Linked DNA regions of Homo sapiens. Changing the gene in region 1 together with any one later gene gives a genetic interaction. Each region holds a gene or a part of one and is shown in the gene's direction. Other genes may lie near its edges. The genes, in order: GCK, PNMT, ITGB7 and CSF3R.

Region 1 (5,534 bases):
GAAAGGCGAGGATGTGAGGTGTGCCCTCATAATGGCGGTGCACGCAGCACAAGCAATTGCAGAAAGACTAAAGTACTGAACAAATAGAAAACTTGGAAAAATATTAGAAGGAAATGTGGGAGAACATTTTTGCAATTTGGGGATTGGAAACGGTTTTCTTAACAAGATATAAAAACCCCAAAACAAGAAAACAAAGGTTGAAATTCATAAAAACTAGATACTTCTGTATGATGAAAGACACGATTAATCAAGTTGTTAAGTTTAGCAATAGACTAGGGGAGATATCATAGTATATTTAACAGACAAAGGATTAATAGATACTACAGATGAAATATAAAATAGTTTCTCCAAGTCCATAGGCAGAAGATAATCCAATAGCAACATAGTTAAGTAATGTAAACAAATCATCCTTAGAAGAAGAAATGCAATCACCAAGAAACACATGAAAAGGTGTCCAGCATTTTGCAATTCAAGCAACAATGAGGTGACAGATCGGCAAAAAACTCATAAAGATTTATCATCTGAAGGATTGGCCAAGATAAAGCCAAACTTCTCGTGTTGGCAGAAGAAACTGGTGAAGCCATGTGAAGAGGCCACGTGGTCCTGCCTACCAAGATGTAAAATGTGTACAGCATTTGAACTAGCAATTCAGCCTCCAGGAGCCATCCAGAAGAAACACTGACACACACTTAGACTCCGGTGAAATTCAAGGACTTCTGCCACAGCCTGCTTCGTAATAGTGAAAATCTGAAACTGCCTCAATGACCGTCAATAGGAAGTTGATTTTAAAGTGTTACAGCACATCTGTCTGGAGAGATCGCACTGGCCACTCCTCCTCACCCCCTCTGCTGGACCTCTGAGCGTAGGTGGCCTGGAGCTGGGTCCTGAGCCCTCTTTGGTCTATACCGACACTACCCAATATGGTAGCCACCAGTCACGCTGGACACTTGAAAAGTGGCCGATCCTGACTGAGAAGGGCCACGAGTGGGAAAAACACACCAGACCTCAGTGACTTAGGCAGAAGTATGTTTTGTTCCAGACTATTGACTGAGCCCGCAGCTGAGTTGGCTCCAGCACCCTGGCCCCCTGCTCCATCCACTCACTGGGACTCCCCACTGCACAGGGCAACCTCTCCAGGGGCACTTGGGCTGCGAAGGGGAGAGTGGGTGGCATCCCAGGCTGAAGCTTCCTGAGCAGGGCCAGAGGAGGAGCCAGTCCCTGTGGGCCTCTGTTCTGACAGTGTCAACCTCAGCCAGGCTTGTGTGGGCCAGGTGTACTGTTCTGGTTCAGATTTCAAGGAGATAGTCAGGGCAGGCCGCGCCAAAGCCCTCCGATGGGCTCCCCTACTGCCTGGCAGACCTGTCCAGCTTTGGACTCTGGCCCTGCGACCTGGAAGTCAGGCTGCCAAGAGGTCCAGGCAGTGGCCTCCACTGTGGAGGGTCTCTGGAGAGTTTACAGCCCTAGATAGGGGGGTTAGGGATGTGAGATGGTCCCAGGGGCCTGCTCCTGAGCCACGCCAAGCTGCCTGCTCCCTTTCCTCTGCTTCCAGACTCACGGGATCCTCTGCTCATCAGAACAGGAGTGTGGGAGACCCTGAGACACTGCCCCAGGATCTGAACAGGTGGCAAAGGCTTAACAGGCTAGCGGTCACTGTAGTGACAAGGCGATTGAGTGGTCACCATGGTGATGGGGATGGAGGCTCTTTGCCACCAGTCCCAGTTTTATGCATGGCAGCTCTAATGACAGGATGGTCAGCCCTGCTGAGGCCACTCCTGGTCACCATGACAACCACAGGCCCTCTCAGGAGCACAGTAAGCCCTGGCAGGAGAATCCCCCACTCCACACCTGGCTGGAGCAGGAAATGCCGAGCGGCGCCTGAGCCCCAGGGAAGCAGGCTAGGATGTGAGAGACACAGTCACCTGCAGCCTAATTACTCAAAAGCTGTCCCCAGGTCACAGAAGGGAGAGGACATTTCCCACTGAATCTGTCTGAAGGACACTAAGCCCCACAGCTCAACACAACCAGGAGAGAAAGCGCTGAGGACGCCACCCAAGCGCCCAGCAATGGCCCTGCCTGGAGAACATCCAGGCTCAGTGAGGAAGGGTCCAGAAGGGAATGCTTGCCGACTCGTTGGAGAACAATGAAAAGGAGGAAACTGTGACTGAACCTCAAACCCCAAACCAGCCCGAGGAGAACCACATTCTCCCAGGGACCCAGGGCGGGCCGTGACCCCTGCGGCGGAGAAGCCTTGGATATTTCCACTTCAGAAGCCTACTGGGGAAGGCTGAGGGGTCCCAGCTCCCCACGCTGGCTGCTGTGCAGATGCTGGACGACAGAGCCAGGATGGAGGCCGCCAAGAAGGAGAAGGTATCTCGCCCTCCATTGGGCATTCTGGGAGTGTTTGCTTGCCTGTCCCCAACATTCCATGGTTTGTTTGAGCCTCAGAATCTGATTTTATGCACAGGCTCTTTGAGAAGGGTCTTGCCAGGGGTGCCTTCTGGGGCAGGAAGGCCCCTACTGCCTGGCAGACCCATCCAGCTTTGGACTCTGGTCCTGCGACCCGGAAGTCAGGCTGCCAAGAGGTCCAGGCAGTGGCCTCCACTGGGGAGGGGCTCTGGAGAGTTTAGAGCCCTAGATGTGGGGGTTAGGGACATGAGGTCTTGTGGACAAAGCCCACTACCTGATTTTGAGACAACACTCACTAGACATGGTGACAAGTCAAAGATGCCTTGCCTCCTACCAGGAATCACTTCGCAGGGAGCCCGAGGGCTGCTGTGGCCTGCTGAGGAGTGCAGGGCAGTTACTTTTTCCAAAAACAAAGAGAAATCCAGGCATGCTCTGAGCCAGCCCTGAGCCCAGCAGTGAGCAAGGAGAGAGCTGGAGACAGGGGACTTTGCTGTGAAACACTGGGGGGAATGTGCCTGCATCACCCCAGCTGGGGGCCCAGGCAGAGTGGGGGAGAAGGGGTAAGTGGGCAGAGCCAGTCACTTTGGGCATGCTTCCCTCTCGCCTCTGTGTGAAATGACCAGGTCAGCATAAACCCCGGGCTGGCTGTGCTTCTGGCAGAGCTAATGATGTTAGGAGGAAAACAACCAACCCAAGTGAGAGGGTGCGCAGCCAGACAGCTGGACCGGCCGAGGCCCCAACCAAGTCCCAGATCTGCCTGTCACTGGTGCTATGGCAGCAATTTGGATGAGAAATCCTGCCCAAAGGGCCCCTTCAGGCCACCCGGGGAGAAGGAAGCGGCTGTCTTTGGCATGACCAGAAAGATGGCTCGGAGCTAGGGAGAGGTGGACATGTGGGCTGTGGAGATCTGGCACTTTCCCCAAACAAGGAGAGAAAGCATAGTGTGCCTATGTGTGAATGTGCTATGTGTGCATGTTTGTGCCTGTGCATACCTGCATGTGTACATGCATGTGCACATATGTGTGCACAGGGAATCACTTTAATAAAGGCCACAGCAGAGCTGTCCCTGAGCCCCTTGCATTCACAGTGGCATGTGAGTGAACCACCTTCTTAGGCTGGGCATCCAGTCTCAGACTCTGGGGCTGCCCATGCCCCATCCTTTATCTGCTCCACGTGTGAGGGGTTGCTGGTCCTGACCAGGGCCAGCTGTGAACCCCAGAATCCTGGGAAGTCACTGACATTCTTGTCAGGGCCAAGAGTGGAGCAAGGCAATGCCTCGGGCACAAACTTTAAGGGGTCACCAGAAACATCAATCATCAAGATATATGCTATTTTAAATAATCAAAATGAATGCAAAAAAAATTTATGATGGACAACATACCAAATTCTAAACAAAGGCAGGATGAGTATCACTGGCTTCTGCACTTTTCTCCACCCAGTCTACCCCTCTTCTAGTGCCTGGATCGCAGGGTGCCAAGGCCTGGATGAGGGAAGCGTGGAGCTGCAATGGCCACTCCTGTCTGCCTGTTCTGGCTGCACAGAGGACTCAGTCCTTGTCTTGGGGGAACCTATCTTGGTTTTAGGGTCATCCTAAGGATCTGATGTTTTCCAAGTGAGCTGGCTGTCCAGGCCCACCCAGGTTCAGTCCAGTCCTGTGTCTCTGGGAAGTGCTGCCCCTACCCCAAGCCAGTGTTTGACCTTGGAGCAATGAGCAATGCCCTCCTTCCACTTTCAAAGTTGTCCCCAAGACGTCAGCTGTGGTTGTCTCTGTGCAGACACCGAGGAGGAACTGTCTTCTTTCTCCTTTTGGTTGCTTTGGAGGAAAGTAAAGTGTTGCTGGTTTCCCTCTTTCTACTTCTTTGATTGAGAGCAGCCGTCTTGCCGGTACCAACCTTCCAGATCTTACCTGTGGTTGCAGGAGCCTGTGGCCTCAGTCCTGTGCCCAGTGACTTCTCCATGTGGATGTCAGCTCCTTAGGGGCAAGCCTGATTCCACTGACACTACTCCCACCCCTCATAAGCCCCTTCTTACCAGCTGCAGTTGCCTGGTACCCCACCATCGCTGACTCATTCCTTTGGCATCAAGGTTCATCCCTTACTGGGCCACCACTTCTGGGTGGCCTGAAATAGGGCCCTGGGCATCCCTCTTGGGGACCTTTTGGTCTATATTTTCACTCTCACCTCACTAAGGACAGATGAGTAAATCTGGTTAACTTTGCCTGATAGATTTGGTGACCTTTTTTCAGGAAGGAGCCTGGAAAGATGAGATTCAGGTGTATTGGTCAGCTTAGACTGCCATAAGAGAATACCATCCACTGATGGCTTAGAAACAACAGAAATCTATTTCTCACTATTCTAGAGGCTGGACGTCCAAGATCAGATGCCAGCATGGTCAGGTTGCAGGGAGGGCTCTCTTCCTGACTTGCAGACCGCCACCTTCTTGCTGTGTCCTCACATCGTGGAGAGAGAGTGAAAACAAGCTCTCTGGTGTCTCTTCTTATAAGAATGCTAATCCTATGATGGGGGCTCCCCCTCCTTACCTCATCTAAACCTAATTATCTCCCAAAGGTCTCATCTCCAGATACCATCACACTGGGGTTAGGGCTTTGACATATGAATCTGGGGGGACACAATTCAATCTGTAACACCAGGAGGGCATGCCGGGAGGAACTGACCTTCCTCCCTCCAGCTGCCCTGGACACCTTTGCCCCATTGAAGGAGCAGGCTCAGAAGTGGAATGAGGATGGAATAAGGTGCACTCCATCATGCTTACCCACATCCCTGGCAGGAATTGTCCTGGGCCCCAGCAGGAGAGATGCCCCCCCATACTGCCATGGCACCTGCTCTGAGACAGGTGTGCAGAGTGCAAAGCTCCAGGTGGCCCCCAAGCAGGTGTGCTGGGAGGAGGGGCCCGTGTGGGAGGAGCAGGCAGCGCCAAGGCCTAGCGGAGCAGTGACAGGTCCCTGACTTCAGGGAATGGGCACGCTGTGGGCAGGCAGCTGGTGTGGGGGTGAGGGCTGGGGCTGCATCTGTGGGACCAGGGCTGGGCCATCCATCATATGCCGTGTCACAACCCCAGTGCCCCTGCTGTAGCCAGGACAGGAGGCTGGGCCAGGCTGGGAGGTGACA
Region 2 (5,147 bases), on another chromosome or scaffold:
CCCCCAGCACCCTCTGTTAGTGCCGCAATAAATGCTCAATCATGTGCCAGAGTTGCATCTCTTTCCTTGTGGTTGGGGGGGCTGGCCCATGGGTGTCCCCTCAATGCCCACTTCTGGGACCAGGCTCCGCATCTGAGCTAAATATGGCAGAGCTAATGGGTACACCCCATACTTGGGGTGGGGGTGGGGGCAGGACAGAGCTGTAAACAGGGTGCTGTCTCCAGTCTCCTTCCCGTACCCTGACCGCTGCCCAGTCCTGGCTTCTGTGTCCAGCCCCCTGGCACTGGGTGGTAACCAGCAAGCCAGCTGGCATCCGCATCCAGGGTTTGTTTCAATGATGTCTCGTGGAGAATATGGAGGGGCTGGTGCCAGGACTGTCCTTGGCTTTGCCTCGGGGTGTGAACGGGGTCAGTGACCTCTAAAACTAACCTGCCTCTCAGTTCTGAATCCAGACAGAATCAATCCTCAGCTGTGTCTCGCTCCACACCCCCTGCCCTGGAAGCCAGGGAAGGTTGGAGGTGCTAGGGGGTCAGGCTCCCCTCTGTGACCCCTGCAGCTGTTGTGGTGACTCATGTCCCAACCTAGCTGCCTCTCCCAAGGAGACTTTCCCCTGGGGACAAGGGGGAGGGAATGGCATGGAGGAGGCCCACATCAAGCGGGGCCAGGAACCCACGGTGGCAGGAGCTGGGCTGGTGACCTACCCAGGGCAGAAGGGCCCGGGACTCATCCAGAGGGGAAGGAAGGGGTCTTCAGGAAGACCACGGAGATGCCACAGGCAGAATTGGCTTCCCATCTGGGAGATAGGTGGGGAGACCCTGGCATTTTGACAGCCAGAACCTGGGGTGCTGAGCAGAATCTTCATGCCTGGCCTGGCCGCTCCTTCGGAGGGAAGCTGGAGGGTGGGCTGCGAGAGGAGTGGGGTCAGAGCCCCTACATCCGCAGGACCCCAAATCGGCTGGGCCCCAAGGCCCGGACTGCGCTCCCCGGTGGCCCCGGCGGCCCTCCGCGAATGCGTCCTGCCCCTCCCCTGCCCAAGCCCTCTGCCCTCACCCGGGTCCGGCGCCGCCCCCGAAGTGGCGGGAACAACCCGAACCCGAACCTTCTGTCCTCGGGAGCCCCCAGATAAGCGGCTGGGAACCCGCGGGGCCCGCAGGGGAGGCCCGGCTGTTCCGCCCGCTAAGTGCATTAGCACAGCTCACCTCCCCTATCGCGCCTGCCATCGGACGGGCAGTGCCGCGCCCTGCTCTGGGGCCCCCGGAGCGACCACAGCGGAGGCCGGAACGGACTGTCCTTTCTGGGGCGGGGTGGGGAGGGGGTGTCGCTGGAGGGCCCGGTGGCATAGCAACGGACGAGAGAGGCCTGGAGGAGGGGCGGGGAGGGGGAGTTGTGTGGCAGTTCTAAGGGAAGGGTGGGTGCTGGGACGGGTGTCCGGGAGGGAGGGGAGCCTGGCGGGGTCTGGGGCCTCGTCGCGGAGGGCGCTGCGAGGGGGAAACTGGGGAAAGGGCCTAATTCCCCAGTCTCCACCTCGAATCAGGAAAGAGAAGGGGCGGGCTGCTGGGCAAAAGAGGTGAATGGCTGCGGGGGGCTGGAGAAGAGAGATGGGAGGGGCCGGCCGGCGGGGGTGAGGGGGTCTAAAGATTGTGGGGGTGAGGAACTGAGGGTGGGGGGCGCCCAGAGGCGGGACTCGGGGCGGGGCAGGCGAGGCGGAGGGCGAGGGCTGCGGGAGCAAGTACGGAGCCGGGGGTGTGGGGGACGATTGCCGCTGCAGCCGCCGCCCCACTCACCTCCGGTGTGTCTGCAGCCCGGACACTAAGGGAGATGGATGAATGGGTGGGGAGGATGCGGCGCACATGGCCCCGGGCGGCTCGGCGGTCAGCTGCCGCCCCCACAGCGGACCGGTCGGGGCGGGGGTCGGGCGGTAGAAAAAAGGGCCGCGAGGCGAGCGGGGCACTGGGCGGACCGCGGCGGCAGCATGAGCGGCGCAGACCGTAGCCCCAATGCGGGCGCAGCCCCTGACTCGGCCCCGGGCCAGGCGGCGGTGGCTTCGGCCTACCAGCGCTTCGAGCCGCGCGCCTACCTCCGCAACAACTACGCGCCCCCTCGCGGGGACCTGTGCAACCCGAACGGCGTCGGGCCGTGGAAGCTGCGCTGCTTGGCGCAGACCTTCGCCACCGGTGAGCGGGGGAAACTGAGGCACGAGGGACAAGAGGTCGTCGGGGAGTGAAAGCAGGCGCAGGGAAATAAAAAGAAGGAAAGGGAGACAGACCAGGCGCCTAACAGATGGGGACCAAGAAACAAGAGATAGCTGAGAGGTGCAAACAGAAGAGAAAAAAGAGCAACATCCCTTAGGAGAGGGGCAGAGGAGAGAGAGGTGGAGAGAGGGGGCGGAGAGTGCTCAGAATTGAGAGCTAAGGTGGGGGATGCAGGACAGACTGAGGTGGAGATGCATAGGAGGAAATGGAGGCAGATGTGGGACAGGGGTGAGAAACTGCCAGGATTTCCTCGCTGAGCCTGGCTGGTAGGTATAGTTGTTTTCTTTCTTTTTCTTTATTTTATTTTCATTTATTTACTTATTTTTATTTTTTATTTGTTTTGAGACGGAGTTTCGCTCTTGTTGCCCAGGCTGGAGTACAATGGCGCCATCTCGGCTCACTGCAACCTCCGCCTCCCCGGTTCAAGCGATTCTCTTGCCTCAGCTTCCCTAGTAGCTGGGATTACAGGCATGCGCCCCCATGCCTGGCTAATTTATTTGTATTTTTAGTAGAGACGGGACTTCTCCATGTTGGTCAGGCTGGTCTCGAACTCCCAACCTTAGGATCCACCCACCCCGGCCTCCCAAAGTGCTGGGATTACAGGTGTGAGCCACTGCGCCCGGCCAGTAGGTATAGTCTTCTAGATGTGAAACCTGAGTCTCAGAGCGGTGAAGTTCCCTTCCGAAGGGCAGCCCATGTTGGAGCTGGGTTCAGTCTAACTCTGGGGCCAATGCTTTTTCCAGATGGAGACACATTTGCAGAGGAGAAGGAAGAACTAGAGAGAGGCAGGGAGATGCAGGGGAGGGAAGGGTAAGGAGGCAGGGGCTGCCTGGGCTGGCTGGCACCAGGACCCTCTTCCTCTGCCCTGCCCAGGTGAAGTGTCCGGACGCACCCTCATCGACATTGGTTCAGGCCCCACCGTGTACCAGCTGCTCAGTGCCTGCAGCCACTTTGAGGACATCACCATGACAGATTTCCTGGAGGTCAACCGCCAGGAGCTGGGGCGCTGGCTGCAGGAGGAGCCGGGGGCCTTCAACTGGAGCATGTACAGCCAACATGCCTGCCTCATTGAGGGCAAGGGGTAAGGACTGGGGGGTGAGGGTTGGGGAGGAGGCTTCCCATAGAGTGGCTGGTTGGGGCAACAGAGGCCTGAGCGTAGAACAGCCTTGAGCCCTGCCTTGTGCCTCCTGCACAGGGAATGCTGGCAGGATAAGGAGCGCCAGCTGCGAGCCAGGGTGAAACGGGTCCTGCCCATCGACGTGCACCAGCCCCAGCCCCTGGGTGCTGGGAGCCCAGCTCCCCTGCCTGCTGACGCCCTGGTCTCTGCCTTCTGCTTGGAGGCTGTGAGCCCAGATCTTGCCAGCTTTCAGCGGGCCCTGGACCACATCACCACGCTGCTGAGGCCTGGGGGGCACCTCCTCCTCATCGGGGCCCTGGAGGAGTCGTGGTACCTGGCTGGGGAGGCCAGGCTGACGGTGGTGCCAGTGTCTGAGGAGGAGGTGAGGGAGGCCCTGGTGCGTAGTGGCTACAAGGTCCGGGACCTCCGCACCTATATCATGCCTGCCCACCTTCAGACAGGCGTAGATGATGTCAAGGGCGTCTTCTTCGCCTGGGCTCAGAAGGTTGGGCTGTGAGGGCTGTACCTGGTGCCCTGTGGCCCCCACCCACCTGGATTCCCTGTTCTTTGAAGTGGCACCTAATAAAGAAATAATACCCTGCCGCTGCGGTCAGTGCTGTGTGTGGCTCTCCTGGGAAGCAGCAAGGGCCCAGAGATCTGAGTGTCCGGGTAGGGGAGACATTCACCCTAGGCTTTTTTTCCAGAAGCTTCCTTGAGGCTAGCATTCTGTACCACTCATTCTTCCCAAACTAAGGAAGGCCAAGGTCAGGGGAGCTCACCGGGCACCTGCAGTGCACCAGGCACTTGTGATATGCCATTGTGTCCATCGCATCATTCATTCCTGCATTCAGCAGCAGGTCCTGCTAGTCTGTTTCCAGGTGAAGCTCAGAGAGGTGAAGTCACAAACAGTGCAGACTGCTTCAGACCAGAACGAGGGAGAGTGGGGATCATGAGGAGATGGAAGTAGAATCTGCAAGGTGGTGGGGAGGTGGGGGTGTTATGATTGAAGCACAATGGCCGAGGGAAGTGAAAGGGAAAGAACTGGCTCCAGCTCCCTCTCACAACTGGACTTGAGTTCTGCCCAGCTCTGCCTCTGGGGCCTGCCATTCCCCATGCCACGTGCCCAGGCAGAGACCTCACCTCTGTTTACTGCCTCCAGCCAGCTCTGGGACCTGCCCCTGCCGCCACAACTGTCTTCTCCTGCCCTCCAGCCCACCCTATTCACACAAATGAGCTGAACAAGGGCAGGTGAGGCTTGGAATTGATTTATTAAGCACATCCCTTGCCACCCTCCCACCTTAAAAGTTTTCAGTATCAAAAGAAGCTAGCGCAGGCCACCCGAGTCCCTGAGGTTGGAGTCCTAGCATAGCTCCCCTCCCTCAAAGAGGGACAAGGGGTCAGGGGCAGAGCAAAAATCCAGTCTGCTTCAACCACGGAGACTGCCTTTGGGATGGAAAGTTTCTGGAGCTCCCTCCATTCTATTCCTGTGGGGCAGGAACATGCCAGGGCTGCTGGTAAATGGCAGGGGTCACCTTTACCAGGGCGCAGGCATAGTGTGGCCCCTGCCTGCCCTGGGGCCACCCTGGAACAGTAAGACCCTCTGGGAAGGGAAGAAACCAGACCCAGCCATAAGCTTTCTCCCCTTCTCCCTCAAATCGCCCCTTCCTCCTCCCCAAAATCAGGCTATGGCAAAGGGGCTGGCAGCAGGGGAATGGAGGTTTTGGAGGGGAAGGCCAGCCATGCGAAGGCAAGGAGAAAAGGAGGATGGAGAGAGCCCC
Region 3 (4,608 bases), on another chromosome or scaffold:
GAGGCTAAGTGACTTGTCCAAGGTCACAAAGATAACAAACAGAAGGGCTGGCATTTGTCCCCAGTCAGTCTGTACATAAACAATGTGAGATCTGGAGCCTGCTTTCACTAAGTTTATAAATAATTCAGAGCTATTCTTCACAAGAACCATAGAATTTTACAGGTAGAAGGAACCATAAAAATTCTTAGTGGTTTAGGTCTTACCTCTGCAACTAGGCTGTAGGCTTCTTGATAACAGGGAGCATCTCCTAAACCTATGGCAAGAAAATCTGAGACAGTATCAAATTTCCCAAGATAAACTCTGTAATGAATCTGCCCTTTAGACCTGGCATGCACCCAGGTTATGTGTCCTGATGTGGGGCTTCACAAACATGGTCTCTGTACATTTACAGCACCTGGCCAGCCTGTGACCCTCAGTGGCCCTTGCTGGCAGCTGCACTGAAATGCTGTATTAGAGGCCTCTGGATCCTGTATGTTCTATGCAAGGTTCTCACGGGTCCTCCCTCCAGAAATGCCTCGACTGGGCAGAATGGAAGGAGCCCCAGGTGGCAGAGGGCAGGGTGCTGGCAGAATTGGGAACACCTGGAGAGGACATAAGGTGGGGTTGGAGTCCTTTTCTGCCTTCACGTGGTTATCCACTCGCTCTCTTCCCATAGAGCCTGTCTTCCACCGTGACCCTTGAACACTCTTCACTCCCTCCTGGGGTCCACATTTCTTACGAATCCCAGTGTGAGGGTCCTGAGAAGAGGGAGGGTAAGGCTGAGGATCGAGGACAGTGCAACCACGTCCGAATCAACCAGACGGTGAGAGCCAGCAAGCACAGGCAGAAGGCGGGCAGGGGGAGGTGGGAGTGGGAAATTAAGCAGGCAGGAAAAGATGGGTGGCAGGTACAGGGAGTGACATGAGAGCCTGAGGTAGTCCTCCATCCATCCTTCCTGGAGCAGTCTGAGTGGCTTCCTCAGGCATGTTTCTAGGAGTTGGGTGTTAACATGACCCCATCCCTTCATTTACTAAGGGGTGAGGTTCTGGATGATTGGTGAGTTTGGGGTATGTGTGTGTGCATGTGTATAACCATGGCCTGATTCCTGCCTCTTCTCAGGTGACTTTCTGGGTTTCTCTCCAAGCCACCCACTGCCTCCCAGAGCCCCATCTCCTGAGGCTCCGGGCCCTTGGCTTCTCAGAGGAGCTGATTGTGGAGTTGCACACGCTGTGTGACTGTAATTGCAGTGACACCCAGCCCCAGGCTCCCCACTGCAGTGATGGCCAGGGACACCTACAATGTGGTGTATGCAGGTGAGGGCCTCCTCTTCCCTTCAACCACCTGGCTCCCAACAACCAACCAACCCTGGCCCGTATTCCTCCGCTGCTTTCCATCCCCCCCACAGGAGTCTCCTCGACATCCCGACTCCCCACTCAGTTTCATCCCTTGAAGCTTCCCATGTATGTCCAGGCCCTCCCCCTGACTGGGGCTCCCTCCACTCTCTCACCCCTCAGTGTTTCACTATACTTAACATCCTTTCAGCTGTTTGTCTGTCTCCAACTCTTTTGAGAACTTGGGTTTAGAGGTTCCTGGGAGAGACAAGTCAGGGGTGATCAAACCCTCTGACCTACTTCTCTCCTTTGCCTTCCCCTTCCAGCTGTGCCCCTGGCCGCCTAGGTCGGCTCTGTGAGTGCTCTGTGGCAGAGCTGTCCTCCCCAGACCTGGAATCTGGGTGCCGGGCTCCCAATGGCACAGGGCCCCTGTGCAGTGGAAAGGGTCACTGTCAATGTGGACGCTGCAGCTGCAGTGGACAGAGCTCTGGGCATCTGTGCGAGTGTGACGATGCCAGCTGTGAGCGACATGAGGGCATCCTCTGCGGAGGTACCTGGAGCCTTGGGGAGAAGGGCGGGGTCTGAGAGGCCTTCCCAAGGCACTTAGGCTCTGGGAATCTCCTGGCATGGAAGGCAAATATCAAAAGATTCCGGTGTATGGGTTAGAGGGTGTGGTTGGCATACTTCAAAAAGATTGGATGCGTGGGCTTGTCGTGCCACATGATGGCCAACTGTGTGTGTGGAGTATGGTTGTCACCCTCTGCATGGCTCTACCCCAGGCTTTGGTCGCTGCCAATGTGGAGTATGTCACTGTCATGCCAACCGCACGGGCAGAGCATGCGAATGCAGTGGGGACATGGACAGTTGCATCAGTCCCGAGGGAGGGCTCTGCAGTGGGCATGGACGCTGCAAATGCAACCGCTGCCAGTGCTTGGACGGCTACTATGGTGCTCTATGCGACCAATGCCCAGGCTGCAAGACACCATGCGAGAGACACCGGTGAGGCCTCAGGTCTTGCATCTTGGGAGCAGGGGCACAGTGGGGCTTGTTGAGCTACTCCCATCTGCCTACTCTCCGTCCTGCTTGTAGTTGGGCAAGGGGCATTGGGTGACAACTGCCCAGCTGGTAACCTATTGGCATCTACTACACAGGGACTGTGCAGAGTGTGGGGCCTTCAGGACTGGCCCACTGGCCACCAACTGCAGTACAGCTTGTGCCCATACCAATGTGACCCTGGCCTTGGCCCCTATCTTGGATGATGGCTGGTGCAAAGAGCGGACCCTGGACAACCAGCTGTTCTTCTTCTTGGTGGAGGATGACGCCAGAGGCACGGTCGTGCTCAGAGTGAGACCCCAAGAAAGTAAGTGGGCAGGGATGCCACAAACCCTGGAAGTTTGATGGGCAGGGTCTCAACTCTGGGGATGCAGAGTGAAGATAATGGGAAACAGGCTGGGGGCTGAAGCAGAACTGTGAATCCAGGACAAAGGCAGAGGCAATTGAGCAAGTGGACGAGGCTAAGGCCCTGGGCGGTGAGGATAACCTTGGACCTCCCTGGGTTCCCTTTGCTTTCAGTGACAGACAGGGTTGGACAGGCTGGACACACTGTGAGCAACTGATGATCTGTCCCTATGCTCCAGCTCCCACAAGTGTGTCTGGTTTCTTGTTCACAGAGGGAGCAGACCACACGCAGGCCATTGTGCTGGGCTGCGTAGGGGGCATCGTGGCAGTGGGGCTGGGGCTGGTCCTGGCTTACCGGCTCTCGGTGGAAATCTATGACCGCCGGGAATACAGTCGCTTTGAGAAGGAGCAGCAACAACTCAACTGGAAGCAGGTGAGGAGACTTCCTGGTTAGGCCCCTTTTTAGCTGTTCCCCCACCACAAGACCAGCCCTGATTCCTCCCACTGGGTTCCCCCAGCCCCTGGCACATGTAACCAACCCCTCTGCTAACTTCCATCAGCTCCTAGGATTCGGCTCAAGGCTGGCCTCTTAGGTCTAGAAAGGGGACGAGGAATCCTGGGATTTTTGCTTATAATCTGCAACATCTTTCTCCAGGACAGTAATCCTCTCTACAAAAGTGCCATCACGACCACCATCAATCCTCGCTTTCAAGAGGCAGACAGTCCCACTCTCTGAAGGAGGGAGGGACACTTACCCAAGGCTCTTCTCCTTGGAGGACAGTGGGAACTGGAGGGTGAGAGGAAGGGTGGGTCTGTAAGACCTTGGTAGGGGACTAATTCACTGGCGAGGTGCGGCCACCACCCTACTTCATTTTCAGAGTGACACCCAAGAGGGCTGCTTCCCATGCCTGCAACCTTGCATCCATCTGGGCTACCCCACCCAAGTATACAATAAAGTCTTACCTCAGACCACAGCTGTCACTTTGCTTTACCTCATCAAGGCCAAAGCAGACTGTTTATAGCCTGGGCCTCGGGAAAGCTCTTGTCCATCCTCCTCTTGCCACCTGAGGGCAGGGAGAGGTGCCCAAGCGCGAATGTGCAGGAAACTCCCGGGGTGCACCCTGGGACCCAGGAAGCCAGGTCTGGAAAGGGCCTATGAATTCTCAAGTGCTGCGGATGCAGGGGGGTCCCAGGTCAGAGACACTGCATCTGTTGGTGTCTAGCCTCCTTCCGTCCTGCTGCGTGTGCTTTTTCGTCTTGCTCAGAACTGATGCCCTGTTTTTGCTCCTACTTGCTTGTTCCTCTGTGGAGAAGGGGTTTTAAAATGGCTTATAGGGTGCTGGAAGTTGTGGGGTGATTATGTAGGGAGAAAAAAGGAAAACAACTAAAACCAGTATGAAAAAGCTTCCCCAAAGAGGAGATAGTATGTAGAAAAGCCCCATTTTCCTTTTATTTAAATATCCTAAATATATCACGAAGGAACATACACTGCACTTTAATGGTAAAAAGATACAAGTTTATAACATCTTATAAAAACTACCATTTAAAAGTGATCTTGTCCATTTGATATTCCCCTCCCCCATAGCAAAATATTATTTAAAAAAAAAAAAAACAAAAAACAGGGTGGAGAGGAGGATAGGAAGGGGACAGTTGATAAAACCCCAGGGCCACAGCAGAGGCAAAGGGCATCTGGGGAGAGGGTTCGAAGCTGTGGCGGACTCCACTAATGTAACCCTCCAATGTCAAGCCATGGGCGTGATCAGTAGCTAAGTGATGACAAGGCTGTTGGGGGTGGACGGAAAAGACTTGGGGCAAAGCAGACTGTTTATAGCCTGAGCTGGTAGGGCCTGGTGCAGCAGCCTACCCGGAACTGGCACTACTCTTTCCCAGGTTCCCTGAC
Region 4 (5,603 bases), on another chromosome or scaffold:
GAGCGAGACTCCATCTCAAAAAAAAAGAATGAAAATAAAAATAAAAAATAAATTTAAAATGACCAGAAGGCCAGGTGCGGTGGTTCACGCCTATAAAACCAGCACTTTGGGAGGCTGAGGTGGGCGGATCACTTGAGGTCAGCAGTTCAAGACCAGCCTGGCCAACATGGTGAAACCCAATCTCTACTGAAAATACAAAAATTAGCCAGGCATGATGGCAGGCATTTGTAATTCCAGCTACTTGGGAGGCTGAGGCAGGAGAATCACTTGAACCTGGGAGTCAGAGGTTGCAGTGATCCAAAATCGCGCCACTGCATTCCAGCCTGGGTGACAAAGTGAGACTCTGTCTCAAAAAAAAAAAAAGAAAGAAAGAAAAAAAAGAACTAAAAGAACTGACTGGACATGGGAATGTGGAGAAAGGGTTGTAAGGAATGACTCCTGAGTCCCTGAGCTGCATGACTAGGGAGAGGAGGGGATGGTGGTTAATTCACCATGACAAGGTACGTGGGGATTAGAGACAGATTTGGTGAAGTGGGGGAAGATTCATCCAGTTGATCATTCATTCAACAAACACGCATGGAGGCCTTACTGTGTGGCAAGCAGTGTTATAGACACTGGAGATAAAGTTTTGAACAAAACAGATAAAAACTGTTGCTCTTATGGAACTTTCAGTCTAGTGGGGATTGAGACAGCCAATATCAGATGGTGAAAAGGGATTTGGGGGAGAGAGAGATAGGGAGTGGGAGGGAAGGGGCTTGCAAATTTTGAAAAGGGTGCTCAGAGAAGGCCTCAATGAGAAAGTGACATTTGAGCAAAGACCTGAAGAAGGGGAGGGACCAGCCCATGTAGCTATTTGCGGGGGAAAGAGTCCAGGCAAATGAAACAGCAAGTGCAAAGGCCCTGAGGCAAGAGACAGCATAACAAGTTCAAGAAGCAAAGAACACAGAGTAGCTGGAGCAAGGCAGCAAGGGGGAGAATAACAGGAGAGGGATCCAGGAGGTAACAGGGATACCAGGTTTTGTAGGGCCTTGTAGACCATCCAAAGGGCTTTGACTTTGACTCTGAATGAGACAGGAGCCATTGGAAAGGTTGGGACGAGGATGGGCTGATCAGACTTCTGTTTGATTGATATCGCACTGGCTGCTGAAGGAATTACAGACAGGTGCGGGAACAAGGATGAAATAGAAGCAGGAGAGCAGGCAGGGGGCTATTGCGATTATCTAGGCAATAGATGAGGGTAGCTTGGAGCTGGCTAGTATTGGTTTCAGTTATATTTATATTTTCCAAATATTATCATAAAAATATTCAAACGTAGAGCCAAGTTGAACTTTACAGTGAATACCCAGGATTCTGGTTATATTTGGAAAGAAGAGAGTCCATGGGACTCACTGAGCGAGCAGAGCCTGTGGGATATCTTGGGAGGGTTGCAGCAGGCAGTCAGGTCATTTGACTTGGAACTAGAACTACAGCCCTGGTCTGCAGCATCACACCAGACCCAGATGCCTCAAAAGGATTATATGTTAAGGACAGTCTGCTGGTCTGTTGGCACCTAACCTTTTTTGGGTTATGAATCCAATAAACTATGAGCAGTTTGAACCTTTCTCAGAAAATGCAAAGAAAATTATTTGTAGTTTTAGAAGAATCATGAATACAGACAATAAAAGACATAAAATGTAGTCTATTTCACTCAATTACAAAATATTCAGTGTTGCAGAACCATTGTGGGTAAACATTCCTAATTTTTAGTGAACATATAAAGACCCCGTGCCTCACCAAGACGTCCTCCTGTCTTGCCCCCAGAATTCCTGTTTCTCCATCTGCCTGGTCTATGGGCAATGCACAGAATACGTAATGAAGAGGGGAGCAGTGAGTATTGGGTTACACAATTCCCTGGAACCTGGAACACACCCTTCTGAGTACTGTGAAGATGTGGTCCCCAAGGCTAGAGCTGAAAAGAGGCTTAGGGCCGGGTGAGCCTTCCAGCCAGGGCCTGCCTCCAAGTGATGCTCCCCCAGGGCAGGGGGCATAAGGATGGCACCCAGCCAGGTGGGAGCCTGGGCCCTGCCCAGCCTCAAAGCTTTGAGCTCAGGAAATCCGGAGGCAGGGGAGGGGGACATCGTTGCCACATTCCCCAGCCCTTTAAGACCCCCAAGGCAGGAAGGCTGCCCGGGCCTCACCAGCTTCCCTCACAGGCTCCTTCCTGGGAGGAAGGGGCTGCCTGTGCCCTCGAAGGCGCAAGGGAGGGCAGGAGGGAGGCTCGGAAGGTGTTGCAATCCCCAGCCCCCGGGCCTGTCAGAGGCTGAGCCATTAACGACAGAGCTCGGGGAGAGAAGCTGGACTGCAGCTGGTTTCAGGAACTTCTCTTGACGAGAAGAGAGACCAAGGAGGCCAAGCAGGGGCTGGGCCAGAGGTGCCAACGTGAGTAGGGGATCCCTAGAGAGGGGCTGAGCCTTGGGCTTGATGGAGAGCTGGAATCCTGGGGCCACTCCCCACAGCTCTGCCAAGTGTTCATGTCCGGGGTCCTAGGCCTGGGGCCCGGGATTCGTCCTTTGGAACCCCAGCCCTGGACACTGAGTCTCTTTTCACAGGATGCCCCTACTTTTGGGGGTATTGCACCAGGGAAGTCACTCACAGCCAAGTATCTCCTTGGGGACACTGAGCTGGGCTGGGGACAGGCATAATCATTCTCCCCTCCCCATGCCTCTGTCTCTCAGGACGTGTGTGTCTGTGAGTTCCAGCCGCGCAACCCCTCCCCGTCTGGGTCTCTATTTCACTCTCTGTTTCCATCTTTCCTCCTCAGCTTCTCTCTGGCTTGCTATCTCTCTGAGTTTCTCTGTCTCGCATATTTCCTGCTATCTCTTGAATCTTAAACTCTCGGTAACAGACGCTTCCCGGGCTCCAGGCCTCCGAGTGCCCCCCCCCCGCCCACTCTCTGGGTCGGCGTACATTGGGCCCTTTTTCTCTGTCTCTCGATATCTCTCTGGCCTCAATCGTCCTCTTGGCGAGTCTCTCTGTCGTTTCAGTCTGTGTGGATTTCAGTCACCGCCTCACTCTGTCACTCTTCCTGTTGCTCTCTCTTTTTCTTTATCTGCAGCATATCTGGAAATGCCTCTCCCCTCTGTTTATTCCCAGCCCCCTCCTCCCTCCCCACCCTTCCCACAGAAAGAATCTCGAGGTGAGAGTAGAAACAGCAAGGGAGCGAGGGGTGTGAAGTGGGGAAGAGAGTGTGAGGGGAGAGGGCTGAGCGTGATGAGGGAGAAACAGAAAGAGGGAATGTGAAGGCAGCCAGCCCAGGAGACATCGAGCTGTGCTGGGCCACAGGAGTGAGCACCTGCAGAGCCCAGCAGAGATGGCCGCAGTGACAGGAGGGCCAGGGGGCCCAGGAGTTAGGAGGAGAGGATCCAGAAAGGGGGCTTTGGAACTGCGCAGTGTGGCACAGACAAAAGCAAGGTGGCAGTCCTGGGAGGTGTGACCACACAGGCTGTGAGGGAGGCAGGGGTGAGGGGAAAACTGAACTGTGCTGGATTCTGTGAGCTGCTGACCTGCTATTTATGGCTCGTGAAAATAACCTATGGTTGCTGAGTGCCAACTCCATGCAAGGCACAGGGCTAAATGCCTTTACCAAAATAATCTCATTTCATCCTCACAACAACGCTGAGGAGTGAGTGCTAATGTTATTTCTTTCCCACAGATGGGGAAACTGAGGCTCGGCTCGGAAAGGTGAAGTAACTTGTCCAAGATCACAAAGCTGGTAAGTGGCGGAGCTGGAGATCAAGTCAGGTGACCTGAATCTGAGCTGGGCTCCAAACCTCTCTGCATATCGGCCCCCCAGAGAGTGAGACCATGCTCCAACAGGTCCTAGGCCCACTTAACCAGGCTGGGGGACGTCCAGGGCTGCAGTGGAGGACCAGAGACTGAGGCCAAGCAGGCCAACACCCAGCACCCAGGGGAAGGATGCCGGGGCCTCTTGGGGTTAGGTTGTCTACTCTGGACAGGAGCCAGTGGAGGCGGATAGGGTGGTACTGCACGGGGCATAGGCTGGGCCTGAAGCTGACCCTGGCTAGGGCAACAGGGCTGGGATAGGATCAAAAGCACATGGAGATGAAAACCAGTGTCCCAAAATCTGGGCCTTGGAGGCTAAATCTTCCCCAACCAGTGTTGCGGGGGGATAATCAAACTGGTATGCTATAGTAAGAAGGTTACCAACCACCGATGGGTAGACAGATGCTCGGGATACTTGTACAGGTTTCTCACTGCACAAAACTGAGGAGTAACTGGAGCCGAAATCCAGGCTGTTCCCTAGTTGCCAGGTCCTAGTGTGGTGCTGCATCCATCCAGAGGAAGGGGTGCTTTCTTTCTGATTTGCACAAAGGAGACTTACGGGCTAGCAGTCACTGGGTATTCCGATACTGCAATATATACATGGATAGACTGGGGGTTTGGGTAAGACCCCTGTGAGCAGTAACAACCTTGGGTATCTGGGCAGTTCTTATCCACACCTCTGTCTGGGAGGAAGAGAAAAGGATTCTCCTACCTTTCTCCCTGCTGAGCACGAGGGATCTGCTGGGACACCACCTGCGTGTATGTGTCCAGATATGTACGTGCAAGCTGACCAGCGATTCCCACTGATCTGCCACCAAGAGCACCAACTCGTGCTGGAGGATCAGGTGTTGGCTCCAAGACCCCAATGGGAGCAGGGTGAAGATGAGGCTGGACACCCACCCAAGTGGTAGAAACCTCTGCATACTTCCTAAGACTGGAGCCAAGGCACCCTCCATCCAGGTGCTATGGCCGTGACCTCATGATGCCTGACCCCAGAAGGCCACCAGAGGTCTGTGCCCAAAATTGGGGGCACACTGGACCCTTCGGGTGCCCCACTTGATATTCTCTCAGCCCACATGGCTGAGGCAGCCAGCTTCCTGCAGGCATAACCTGACAGCCCCTTGCCTCAGCTGCTCCATAGAGTTCTCCCTTTCTTCCAGGGAGTGTCCCTGACAACACTGGCATGGCTTCCCCAGGAGAACCTGCCTAGTACTCATGCATGCCCAACCTGGATGTGCCAGGGAATGAACACCCCAAGAGGCATCCCTTGACCAATGGGGGGCAGGAGTCAGTGGGTAAATCTTTCCATCTTCCCTCCCATCCAAGGGATAAATTGACCCTCCAGTGGACAGCTCTGAGAAGTGTTCTACATGGCTCTTTGGAAGGTTCCAGCAGGATAGAGCCCCAGTTGTCCATAGAGGTGACCAACATGATGATGTAACTTTGTGCTGGCTTTCTCTCCTTCCCTGTTTCATTCTCCCCAGTCCCTTATCTGCTGCTAGGATCTTCTCAAAATAAACTACCAGCATGCAATTCCTCATCTCAGGTTCTGCTCTCTAGGGGTAGCCTAGCTTAGATAGCTGGGAAGGCGGAAGAATGCTCTTCCTCACTGCTCCTTTCCCTGCTCTTTCCTGGAAGGCAAGTATAATAACTGTGGCTGTCACTGTCATTTCCTATGTTCCAGGCACTGTGAAAAGCCCTTGACTTGCATCATTTTGTGTCTTCCTCTCAAAGTCCCATGCAGTATAGGCTGCTGTTACTTCCATTTTGCAAAGAAACGA

The links.
Region 2: changes in GCK (region 1) and PNMT together harm fitness less than expected from each alone (positive genetic interaction), as found in Homo sapiens cells (one large-scale study listed by BioGRID).
Region 3: changes in GCK (region 1) and ITGB7 together harm fitness more than expected from each alone (negative genetic interaction), as found in Homo sapiens cells (one large-scale study listed by BioGRID).
Region 4: changes in GCK (region 1) and CSF3R together harm fitness more than expected from each alone (negative genetic interaction), as found in Homo sapiens cells (one large-scale study listed by BioGRID).

Annotation. Positions count from the first base shown.
Region 1 is NC_000007.14:44,185,742-44,191,275, reverse strand, and holds the start of GCK (hexokinase-4), read left to right. Parts: upstream 1-1,836; 5' UTR 1,837-2,322; coding exon 2,323-2,367; intron 2,368-5,534. UniProt on the Homo sapiens protein: Catalyzes the phosphorylation of hexose, such as D-glucose, D-fructose and D-mannose, to hexose 6-phosphate (D-glucose 6-phosphate, D-fructose 6-phosphate and D-mannose 6-phosphate, respectively).
Region 2 is NC_000017.11:39,666,504-39,671,650, forward strand, and holds PNMT (phenylethanolamine N-methyltransferase), read left to right. Parts: upstream 1-1,949; 5' UTR 1,950-1,972; coding exon 1,973-2,174; exon of another isoform or gene 2,175-2,518; intron 2,519-3,125; coding exon 3,126-3,333; intron 3,334-3,447; coding exon 3,448-3,886; 3' UTR 3,887-3,972; downstream 3,973-5,147. UniProt on the Homo sapiens protein: Catalyzes the transmethylation of nonepinephrine (noradrenaline) to form epinephrine (adrenaline), using S-adenosyl-L-methionine as the methyl donor. Other substrates include phenylethanolamine and octopamine. Also methylates normetanephrine.
Region 3 is NC_000012.12:53,190,392-53,194,999, reverse strand, and holds the end of ITGB7 (integrin beta-7 isoform a precursor), read left to right. Parts: exon of another isoform or gene 1-655; coding exon 656-802; exon of another isoform or gene 803-1,098; coding exon 1,099-1,292; exon of another isoform or gene 1,293-1,636; coding exon 1,637-1,860; exon of another isoform or gene 1,861-2,089; coding exon 2,090-2,309; exon of another isoform or gene 2,310-2,461; coding exon 2,462-2,670; exon of another isoform or gene 2,671-2,980; coding exon 2,981-3,141; exon of another isoform or gene 3,142-3,268; coding exon of another isoform or gene 3,269-3,301; exon of another isoform or gene 3,302-3,363; coding exon 3,364-3,444; 3' UTR 3,445-3,677; downstream 3,678-4,608. UniProt on the Homo sapiens protein: Integrin ITGA4/ITGB7 (alpha-4/beta-7) (Peyer patches-specific homing receptor LPAM-1) is an adhesion molecule that mediates lymphocyte migration and homing to gut-associated lymphoid tissue (GALT).
Region 4 is NC_000001.11:36,479,626-36,485,228, reverse strand, and holds the start of CSF3R (granulocyte colony-stimulating factor receptor isoform a precursor), read left to right. Parts: upstream 1-2,315; 5' UTR 2,316-2,418; intron 2,419-3,691; 5' UTR 3,692-3,751; intron 3,752-5,148; exon of another isoform or gene 5,149-5,242; intron 5,243-5,603. UniProt on the Homo sapiens protein: Receptor for granulocyte colony-stimulating factor (CSF3), essential for granulocytic maturation. Plays a crucial role in the proliferation, differentiation and survival of cells along the neutrophilic lineage.